2 separate regions of the Homo sapiens genome follow, and region 1 is linked to region 2. Evidence: fine-mapped expression QTL. A gene starts in region 2. The other region holds a variant in brackets. All regions are shown on one strand. Distances are between the middles of the regions. Region 1 has its middle 26 kb from the start of MAT1A. Region 2 holds the start of PRXL2A (peroxiredoxin like 2A).

Evidence for each region. PIP is the estimated chance that this variant, and not a neighbour inherited with it, causes the effect.
Region 1: its variant is the best candidate, but not a certain one, in a credible set for the expression of PRXL2A in whole blood (INTERVAL, PIP 0.71).

Annotation. Positions count from the first base shown.
Region 1 is chr10:80,261,131-80,266,504 of GRCh38, forward strand. No RefSeq gene overlaps it. Among named protein-coding and RNA genes, the nearest start is that of MAT1A, 26 kb to the right of the region's middle. RefSeq lists enhancers at 3,164-3,695, 3,696-4,226. The variant G/A (reference allele first, on the strand shown) is at 2,154.
Region 2 is chr10:80,405,395-80,410,768 of GRCh38, forward strand. It overlaps PRXL2A (peroxiredoxin like 2A), which reads left to right and starts at 3,157. Exons shown (of 6, transcript NM_032333.5): 1 at 3,157-3,249. RefSeq lists a silencer at 2,936-3,225 and enhancers at 3,511-4,104, 4,951-5,374.

The DNA of each region.
Region 1 (5,374 bases), 140 kb before region 2:
GGAGAAGGCTGATGTGAAGCACTATCCATTGCTGAGCACTTGCTAGGTCCTAGGCACTAGCTAGACCCTTTCTGTCTACCATATCCCTCCCAAGCTCACTGCAAGGCACGGTCCATCTTCATTCCCTTGTAACAGCTAGGGAAACTGGGGCTCAGTGAGGTTCCACAGCTTTTCAGAAGTCGCATGGCCTGAAGATTCTAGAGCCTGCTTCAAACCTTGTTCCCCCTGACCCCAGAATCTCTGTTCAGGTTTCCCTGAAGATGCCAGAGTGTGTTCGGTCCACAATGACCACAGTTACGGACCAGGCCCAGCCTGGTCAGGCTCACCTGGCCTTTCACACTGCAAGGTGGACCTGGTCTGAACCTCAGGTCCTAGGACTGCTCACTATATCACCCTGAGGATCCAGCCTTGCTTTTTACCTATAAGGTGTGCATATCTATCCCTGGGCAGGCTTGATCCTGGCTCAGCATGGCATCCCAACCCCTAGTCCTCAAGCTGCAGACACCCCAGCGCTTCGCCCAGGCTGCCCTGAGGCCTTTAGCACACGCATTGTACAGATGGTGATGACACTGGGGCAGGCTTTTTACCCCAAATGAAGAATCTGAGGGCCCAGTAAGCCAGATGCGCTGGTGAAGAGGAATCCCAGCCTGTACCAACCTCTCATTGCCTTGAACAGCTAAGCTCAGTCCAGCTCTGGCCAGGACCCTTACAGCCAGGGGGCAGCAGCCCTGCTGGGCCCAGACCAGGAGCCACCTACCCTTTAGAATGTCAGCACAGTCAAACCATTCTTTTACATTTATGGAGACTGACAACTAGCCTCCACTGTTGTCTTATCACTGAGCAACACAGAAGCATTGGCAGAGAGGAAGTGTTCTGATATTTCAAATGTTTCTGGTGGTCGAAATGCTCCCAGATAATAGCATAGTTTTGGAAATAATGGACTACATCATAAAATTAAAATTAACTCCTTCTGTTTTCTAGAACTTATAATGAGAATAATTTAAATAACCATTATTTACCAAATTTTATTCATATATGTATAATACTATTGATGTATCATTTGAGGAAAAGTAAAGCACATATAAAAGAGGCTTTTAAATTAAAAACAAATATAAGGGACTTTTAAAAGTTTGTGGGAAAATGAAATTAAAAGACAAGAATAAAAAATATAAACTTTATTTCTCTCAAGTTCTATCAAGGTCAAGACACTTTTGTAAGTGATGATATCGTCCATTTTGTCCATCTCCAAAGAACTGAGGATCCTGGGAATTTAACCATGTCAAGGCAGTCTTTTTTACATTATTAAATGGAGAAAAACGGGTCTCCTTTAAATAATTTCTTAAGATTAGGAAACAAAAAGAAGTCATAAGGAGCCAAATCAGGACTGTAAGGTGGATACCTAGTGATTTCCCATTGAAACTCGCAAAATTGACCTTGTTTGATGAGAGGAATGAGCAGGATCATTGTCATGATAGAGAACTCTCTGGTGGAGCTTTCTTGGGCATTTTTCTCCTAAAGCTGTGATTCTCTCAAAACACTCGTAATAAGCATATGTCACTGTTCTTTGGCCTTCCAGAAAGTCAACAAGCAAAATGCCTTGAGCATCACTGAAAATTGTTGCCCTGACCTTTGCTCTTCACCTGTCTGCTTTTGCTGTGACTAGGTCACCTCTGCTTCTTGGTAGCCATTGCTCTGATTGTGCTTTGTCTTCAGCATTGTACTGGGAAAGCCAAGTTCCATCTCCTGTTACAATTCTTTGAAGAAATGCTTCAGGATCTTAATCCCACTTGTTTAAAATTTTCATCTAAATCTCCCCTCCTGTCTGCAGTTGATCTGTCCATGGTGTTGGGTCTTTTTCTGCTGTTCATCATTGATCCTCTTCAATTATGGCATGAAGAAGATGAATATTTTTCCTTACAAATTGATATGGATGGTCTACCGCTGTGGACTTCATCTTCCACATAATCTTGTGGTTTTTTTTTGTTGTTGTTTTTTTTTTGAGATGGAGTCTTGCTCTGTCACCCAGACTGGAGTGCAGTGACATGATCTCAGCTCACTGCAACCTCTGCTTCACGGGTTCAAGTGATTCTCCTACCTCAGCCTCCCAAGTTGCTGGGATTACAGGTGCATGCCACCATACCCAGCTAATTGTT[G/A]TATTTTTAGAAGAGATGAGGTTTCACCATGTTGGCCAGGCTGGTCTCAAATCTCTTCCTTTCTTAAAATGTGTTTTCCATTTGTGAACTGCTGATTTTTTTGGGGGGGGGGATGTTGTCCCCATAAACTTTTGGTAAAGCATCCATGACTTCACCATTCTTCCACCCAAGCTTCACCATGAATTTAATGTTTGTTTTTACTTCAATTTTCACAGAATTCATGTTGCTCTGGTAGGTGCTCTTATCAAGCCAATCTCTGATCCTTCTCAGTGCCTCAAACTAGACCCTATTCAGAAATATTATAACAAGTTAGTGTGAGTTTATTTTGGTGTAAAAAAAATTTGAAGTCCATGCACAGTTTTTTCATAATACACATTTTCCATGAACTTTTTGAAGCCCCCTCATAAATAATTCAAAAATACATTTGGGAAAATTTGAGAAATTATGTAGGGCCTGGTGGTAATTGGGCATTTGGACTGGCAGGATCATGTGGTGGCTCAATGAGAAGCCAGAAAGCAACTCTTTCCCATTTTCTGGGTGGGGGCTCCAGCCCCTGAGTGGGGATAAGGAGGAAAGCAGCCCTTCATGGAAGCTGGCTCAGGAGTTCACCCAGGCTTCCTGGAGAAGGGGACAGAAGAGGATGTCTCCTTCCCATGAACTCCACATTTGAGTTCACTGGAAACATAGGCTCTGGGAATGGAGGGGAAGAGGGCAGAGGAAAGGCTGGCAGCTGAGGTGGGGTATAAAGGGAGGGGAGTGTCAGAGGAGGCTGCGTCCACGCCTGGAGGTCAGAGGGCAAATGCCCCCAATCACGCTCCATCTGGGTTATCAGCTGCTTGAGGATCCATGTCCAGAAACTCGGGGAATCACTGTGTCCGTTTTCCTTGCCTCGGGACTGTGCCTCTTGTCTGGAGATGATGAGGTTTCTTTCAGCCTCCCATGCTCTCCACCAATGATCATGAGTTTCCATTCGAGACACAGAATCTGGCTTTGAGAATAAGAAACAGTTCCCTCCAGCTTTTCTTCAAGAGCCTCAAGTCACCTTCTGTAACTCCAGATCACAAGCTGGACCCATCCAGGGCAGCAGGCACTCCTGGGCTTTGACCTCCTCTGTCTCGAGGTGAAACTCGGTGAGGGTTTTACATTCCACTGAACTACTGCTGGACTGCAGTGGCACGTCCCTGATCTCTGCACAGAATGTCTTTCATCCCCTGGTTAAACAAGTCTGTCAAAAACAAGAGAACTTTCACCACACGCATACCATGACACCCTCACCACCTCCCAGGGTGATCCAGGCCGAGCAAAACTTGTGCTCACCTGCTTCTGCCTCAAGCTCCATGGAGTCTGCTGGGTTCACCAATAAAGCAGCTCACGCGAGGCTGAAGGTCCTCCCCCATTTCCCAGGCTGCTGCAGAGCTTCTTGCAGCCACCATGGCCAGCTGGGCCGAAACACTGAGACCACTGACCACGGTCTGCCCAGAACCACACCCGTGCCTGGCAACAGGGCAGACTATCACTGGAGAGGCGTGGGGGCACAGCGACAATAGAATCACACCCTCCACCCTGCCCTCTGCTGAACCCCCTCCTGTGGCCCCAGAGCACTCTCCCCATCCTGAGCGCTCCCTGTTCTCTCTGCCTGGAAGGCTTCCTCCGGCTGCTGGCGTGGAGCACATATGTCCACACAAAATAACTGCACTCCTTACCGCAGGCCCCAGGGGTCCGGGGCGGGCCTGGGGCGGCTTGGTTCTCAGTGGAAGGAGGGAAGGAATGCCGCGGAAGGAAGGAACAGGTGAGTGAGTGAGTGAGTGAGTGATGAGGCCCAAAACCATCCCTTGCCCTTCCTCAGAATTCACACTTTCTTGTTCTCTCTTGTCAGTTGCTTCCCTAAGGAAAGCTTAAAATCCCTGTCCACAAAATACCTGAAATATATAATTAAAAATATACATGTATATATTATATAATTTTAAATATTTAACAAATTGAAATAAATGCAAATCTATACACTGATAACATCAGGTGATCATATAACACTAAAATTCATCATTTTGGACTACAATGAAAATCTCAAAAATGTGTTTGGAAAGTACAAATAATAGAGATTATTTTCTATTAATAACGTGTCAATGAAACTAGAAATGAGTGAAAAATTGAGGAAAAACAGCCACATAGGAATTTTATGACTCCCCCATAAGCCATTTTGGATCAAAAAGCCACCAAAACCAACATTCAGTTCAGAAAGTTAAAAATGGAAAAGAAACACAAGGAAAGCAGAGAAACAGAAATGAGATCAAAACGAATTAAAATGTCTTAGAAACTGTGAAGGCTTTGATGCAAAAATCCAAAAACAAAAAAAAATGGCTTCTTTCCTTTCTTTTAAGAGAGGAGCAGAAATATACAATTAAAGATGAGATCAAACAGAAAACCAAAGACATAGAAGAGAACTAAGTTCAGAGCTGCTTTGTAGAGCTCAGTGCTAGAGGTGGAGAGAGCTGGCCATGCCTGCTGGGAGGGGCGGGGCAGCCCAGGAAGTGGGAGTGGGGTCGGCCTGGTGGGGGTTGGGAGGTGGGGCCCTGAAGCTGCTGCTGGGCTACTTTTCGCCCAAGGGTGAAGATGGAACAGCCCTGGGTTGTCTATACAGGTCGCGGCCTCCACCTCATCCCACCCCACTTACTCTCCCGAGGAGGGCATGGATACCATGCCAGGGGGCCTGAAGAGGGTTGCAGAGCCCTGGAGGAGGCCAGGGCCAGGGGCTGCCACGGGAAGTGGAAGGCAGTGGCCCCCACTCCTCCCAGAGAGGCTTCTGGGAAGCCTGCACAGAGCCTGGGAGTCCAGGGCTGCCCCTCCTGCTGGAGAATACACTGTTCAGAACTAAAGGAACAGCGGGATCCCAGGACTTCACAGCCCGGGAACAGTCCCTCCAGAGCAGCGGGAACCAGGCAGTGTCCTGGGCAGATCTCGAGGAAGTGGAGGGAGATCCAGCCGGCTCCCACTCTTAGCTCCCATCCTGCCCACGGACACAATCTGCTCTCTGAGTGGGTGGTCCTCCAAAGTGTCTTCCCCTGCCAGAGCCTGTTTCCTCCTGGTCACTTGGGATTCTGACAGCCTCCGAGGAAAGGAATTCCTGTCCTCTTAGGCTGTTGTGACTGGCTCCGCAGTTGCAGTCTTGGCCTGTGAAGGAGGGGGCTCCTCCCAGCCAGGCCTTGTGTCCCAGGGCCTTTCTG
Region 2 (5,374 bases):
TGGGGGCAGAATAATACCACCATCTAGCCCTCAGTCAGCCATCGGTTCACCTGGTAAACCATTGGCCACATTTATGGAAGGTTTTAGAAAGAGGTCCCTATTGACTTTGCTTTGCTTTGAGACACACTGTGGAAGTATAGGATTTTTTATGCTTAAAACAAATAAGAAAGAGCTGAATTCAGGGATATTGGCATATAGAGAAAATATTTGAAGCTGATCTATGCACATCTATTTTTGAGATTCACATACAAGTCTTGTTCTTGATTTCGCTTTTACCCATCCACAGAATGGTAACCTGGGCCTGACATATTGAAGTGAAGTATCAGTTTTTGCTCTATTTTCATCTTGATGCTAGCTGCTTCCTGACTGTTCCCAGCGAGCCCAGACACCACAGGGCCATAAGCTTAAAAAGATCATGTTACTTCAGTCACTGCTGAGTAGCAGACGAAGCTGAAGCCAGCTGAATCTAGAAGTGCTATGACGCTGAAAAAGTCAGGAGTCTTTACCCAGATCTGCCTCCTGCAAGCAGTGTTTTCTGCCTGCCCTATGGGACTTGTGAGGGACAGAAAAGTTTCCCAGCCCCTGTCAAGATGGTAACATTATCTAAAGTTATCACAAAGCTTCTAGTCAACCTTAATTTCTACCACCTGAAATTCAGAACCTAAGGCTATTTTACAATCTTTACAAAATTTAAATTATTTTTCTCTTAAAAGCTGGGCAGGTTGGTGGGTTTTCTTGGTTTATTCTTCAGGTTTTTTGTTTTGGTTTGGTTTTTGGTTTTAGTCCTTGAGCTTTGTAAATAAGTTTTCCTGCGCCTGCTTGCCTGTAACTTATTTTTCTGGTCTAATGACTGTTTTTTAATGAGTTCAGCCTGTGCTTTCTTGTACAAAAAGAAACGTGGGCATGTGAGGAGCATATTAATTAGCTATCAGATGTAGCCTGGTTTTTGAAGTCCAGATCTTCAGGATGTTACCGAAGTGTAAATATAAGCATGACTTTTGCACGTGATTAGTAATTACATCACAGTTAAAGCCTCAGGGGACCTTCCACCCCAGAATTCTGCTATCCTCAACCCCTGAATGGCTCTGTCATTAATGGTCAGTCTCCAAGAACTCATTTCCCAAGGAAATGACTTCCTGTTTTGTTCTAAGTGGCCTTCCCTGCAAACCCTCCTCACCTTTGAACTTCCTATTTTGGGATGGAAAGATTGACCCTTCTCCCGCTCCTCTTCACAAGGTAAGGAGAAACAAGGGAGAAGAAAGAAAGGTCCTCTGGAGAGAGATATATGTATCATACATATCTTATACATATATCATATATATCTTATATATCTCATATATATCTTATATATATCTTATATATCATATATATATATATATATATATATATATATATAAAACTACACCCGCATTGCACCAAAGTATACGAAATATTTTCTGGCCTTCAAATCATATGCCTAACTCCTGCAGGAAAACTGCATGGGCACTCAGGCTGATCTCCCTTACCCCACAACTTAGATCCACCTCTCACGTTTTCTAAGTTTATTTCCACGCTGTCCCTGGGCCAGGCTCTAGGGTCCCAGAGGTGAAGTGGAGGAATTCACAGTTTGGTTGAGGAGAGACCCCCTTGAATAGATCAAGCTCCCCAAGTGTTGCTGTAAGTTTACATGGAACATGGAGTCTGAGTGGGAAGTCAGGGAGGTGAATCACGGAAGCCTTTGGACTTTGTACACCTGTGGGCAGCTCCCAGATGAAGGGGGGAAGGTGTTGCAGGCAAATGACCACCTTTGACGGGCGGACATCGGCCTGCTTTGCCACTTCACCTTATGCTGCCCTGTGACTGGTCTTTGCACTGTGTCACCGATATGTCTTTTTTTTTTTTTTTTGAGACGGAATCTCACTCTGTCACCCAGGCTGGAGTGTAGTGGCACCATCTCGGCTCACTGCAACCTCCACCTCCGGGGTTCAAGCTATTCTCCTGCCTCAGCCTCTTGAGTAGCTGGGACTACGGGTGCGCGCCACCACACCCGGCTAATTTTTGTATTTTTAGTAGAGACGAGGTTTTGCCATGTTGGTCAGGCTGGTCTCGAACTCCTGCCCTCAAGTGATCTGCCCGCCTTGGCTTCCCAAAGTGTTGGGATTACAGGCATGAGACACCGAGCCCGGCCAACCACTAATATGTATCGTGAGTCAGCTCTGCTGTCTCTGAAAGTCCAACCTCCTACTTTTTGTTTTTTGTTGTTAAGACAGGGTCTTTTTTTTGTTTTTTAAAGACAGGCTGGAGTGCAGTGGCGCGATCTGGGCTCACTGCAACCTCCGCCTCCCGGGTTCAAGCGATCCTCCCACCTCAGCTCCAGAGTAGCTGGAAATACAGGCACGCGCCACTATGCCTGGCTAGTTTTTGTTTTTTACGTAGAGATGGAGTCTTACTATGGTGCCCAGACTGGTCTTGAACTCCTGGGCTCAAGCGATCCTCCCAAAGCCCTGAGATTACAGGCGTGAGCCAGCGCGCCGGACACAACCTCCTACTTTCATGAAAGAGTGGGCACTTCCAACAGGAGGAGTAAGTGGATGAGCGGTGTGTGACACACCCGCCTCAGCGTCGCCCGGAGTCCGCAAGGCTGCGGCTCACCGTTCTCTGCCCCATAGCTGGCATTGTGGAGTGAAAGGGAACGTGGGTGGAGGATTGAGGTTGGAAATTCTGAATCTGTACATACAGCTTGAAGGGGCTCATCGAATGTGTCGGTCCTTTAGATTCCCCCTGCCCATGGAGGTTAAAAAAAAAAAAAAAACCTATCAAAAGAGCTATTCAAAACCAGGCTGAAGATTGGAAGGAAGTTGGCCAGCCTCGGCTGCAGGACAGGTGCTTCCAGGCTCCATTAGGGGTGTCCAGCGCCTTCTTTTGCCCTAGGCAGCGCCCTGAAGAACGCGTCGGGGCCTCGGTTCGCGGACTTGAGGAGTGGACCGACCGAGCGCTGTGCGTAAAAGGACCGCTGGGGCACACGCCCGAGCGCCACCGGAGCTAGGAGACCGCGGCCCGGAGGTCGGCGAGTCGGGGGCAGGCCCGGAGCTCCTCCCACGGGGGGCGGGGCGGGTCACATGGCGGTGGCGCGGTAGCGCGCGATGCAGCACAGGCTAGAGGCTGCGCAAGCGCGGGGCCCGCCCCTGGGACCCTCCGGGCCGGGCGGTTTGGCCCCTTAGCGCCCGGGCGTCGGGGCGGTAAAAGGCCGGCAGAAGGGAGGCACTTGAGGTAGGTGCTGCGCGCCGGGGCTCCGCGAGGCACGTGATGTCCGTAGGCGGGGCCTGCCGCGGCGTAGGTGGGGAAACTGAGGCAGTGCAGGGCCGGTAGGGTGGGTGCTGGGCTGGTGAGGCGCGCCCCTCGGGCCCGCGCCAACTTTCTTAGGAGCCGCCGCAGCGCTGGCGCTCCCTCCGAGGACGACGACCCTTCCGCCACCCTGCGTGGCGGCCGATGGAAAAACCCTGCGCCCAGACGTCGGAGAACGGAGACGGGGACCCGGCGCTGCTGCGGCGGGCTAGGGCCCCCTCTGTCCACGCCCGCAAGCCTTGAGTGACGCCGGTGGCGCCAACCTTCGCGAATTGTTGGGACAAAGAACAGAGGAGAGGGCCCTGCCCTGGAGCATGGGCCCGGGGGCCGCCCTGCTGGACCAGCCCCAGGTGCGGACCTGGCAGTCCTCGTCCTCGTCTCTGTGCCCGCTTAGGGTCGTGTCTTTTAAGAGGGCACGGTTTCTAGCGTTGTTCAGCGTTTCGGAGGCACCTGTTCCCCCTCTTTCCCAAGAGTCACAAACGCCTGACTTTAAATTGGGTAGAGCCCAGTTGTAAACTTAACAGCCCTGCTGAGGTCTAGGAATGAAAAGATGAACAATCTGCCCCCAGGGTTGTTGCTGGAGCGGGAGGTGAAGGCGCAGGTGGAGATGGTTAGAGGCAAAGGAAGGGAAGTCAAGGCCCAGCCGGTCCAGGGCTGTGGGAAGGAGGCACACCCGGGAGTCCACTGCCGGACCGGGGTTCCCAGCTGCTCCTGCGCCTCTTTTCCTTGCCACATCATGCTGTCTGCACAGCCCAGCAACCCAGAACTCAGCTTTTTTGTTTGTTTTATTTTAATGTATTTTCCTTTGAACCTGGCAGGTGGTTTTTCAAAAAGAAAATAATCAAGATTTGTTTTGAAAAGCATTGTGAAAAAGTCAGCTTGAATAGTCTTGAATGCTCCTGCTCGGGCCCAGCTTTGGAGAATGAGGATTGGGATTTCCACTGCAGACCCCGACTCGTTACCATACTCATTCATCAGAAAACTCTTCATTTTGTGTACAAATAACGTTTTGAGGGTAATCATTGCTCTAGAAATGAAGAATTATACATCGTATTTATTGCACTTTTTGTAAGGTACCTCACAAGGCACCTCCTATACATTTAATCCTTTGATTCTTGCAACTCTGTAGAAGGTAATTAAGGAAGCATTCCCATTTTACTGATGCAAAACAGTTCCTTGTCCAGGTTTATACAGCTTGCAAGAATTAAAGTTAGATATTATTCTTGGTGTGGGCCTTTCCTATATCCCCGTCTTTTATAAGAGCATGTCATTTAGTTGAGACCTTCTGCATTACTTCTGAAGGGGTACAAAAGACATTTCTGATGATTTTCTCATCTCGTGTCATTTAAATGGTGCTCAGAAAGTTTGGATAGGACTGGAACTCTAGGGCTCAAGCCCCAGGCTCTGTCCCTATCTAAGCAATAGGGCAGCTGTCCTGCCAGTTGGGTTCTTGCTTCTTTGTGAAATGTTGAGCAGAAGCTCCAAGTCTCTCTGCTGTGGCTTGTGTGGCAAGAACCATCCTGAGGTTCTGTGCAGAGAGCCAGCCTCACCTTTGAGCTCAGTGGCCTCTGGCACAGGGAAATTACAGCTGGGCAGTGTCCTTTGCCTTCTCTGGCACTGCTAGTGCAGGAGGCAGTGTTAGCTGCTACAGGAATAGCATGGAGCGGGCCTGCAGGCCAGAGGGGCTGAGACAAGCCAGTGTTCCCACCAGACCTAGAACGTTCACCAGAAAGCAGGCCTGCAGTGACACAGCTGCAGAAGTTCACTATTTTGTGCCTGTCCTGCTTCAGATATCCTGTCTTTATAGGGGCACGAGTGAATCTGAGCCCTGCAAAAGAGAGAAAGATAATGCTGCTTTGCCGTTTTCTAGTGCGTTACCGCATTAAAAATTGCTCTTCTTATATAATCTTTATGACAACTCTTTAAAGTGCCCTTGTTTTTAAGAAGACACTGAGGTTCAGAGGGATAAAATAACTCTCAGAGTCAAAGAGAGAAAACCCAGGATTATTGGCTTTTAGCCCAGTGTCTTCTGTGGTATTGCCTTGCCTTC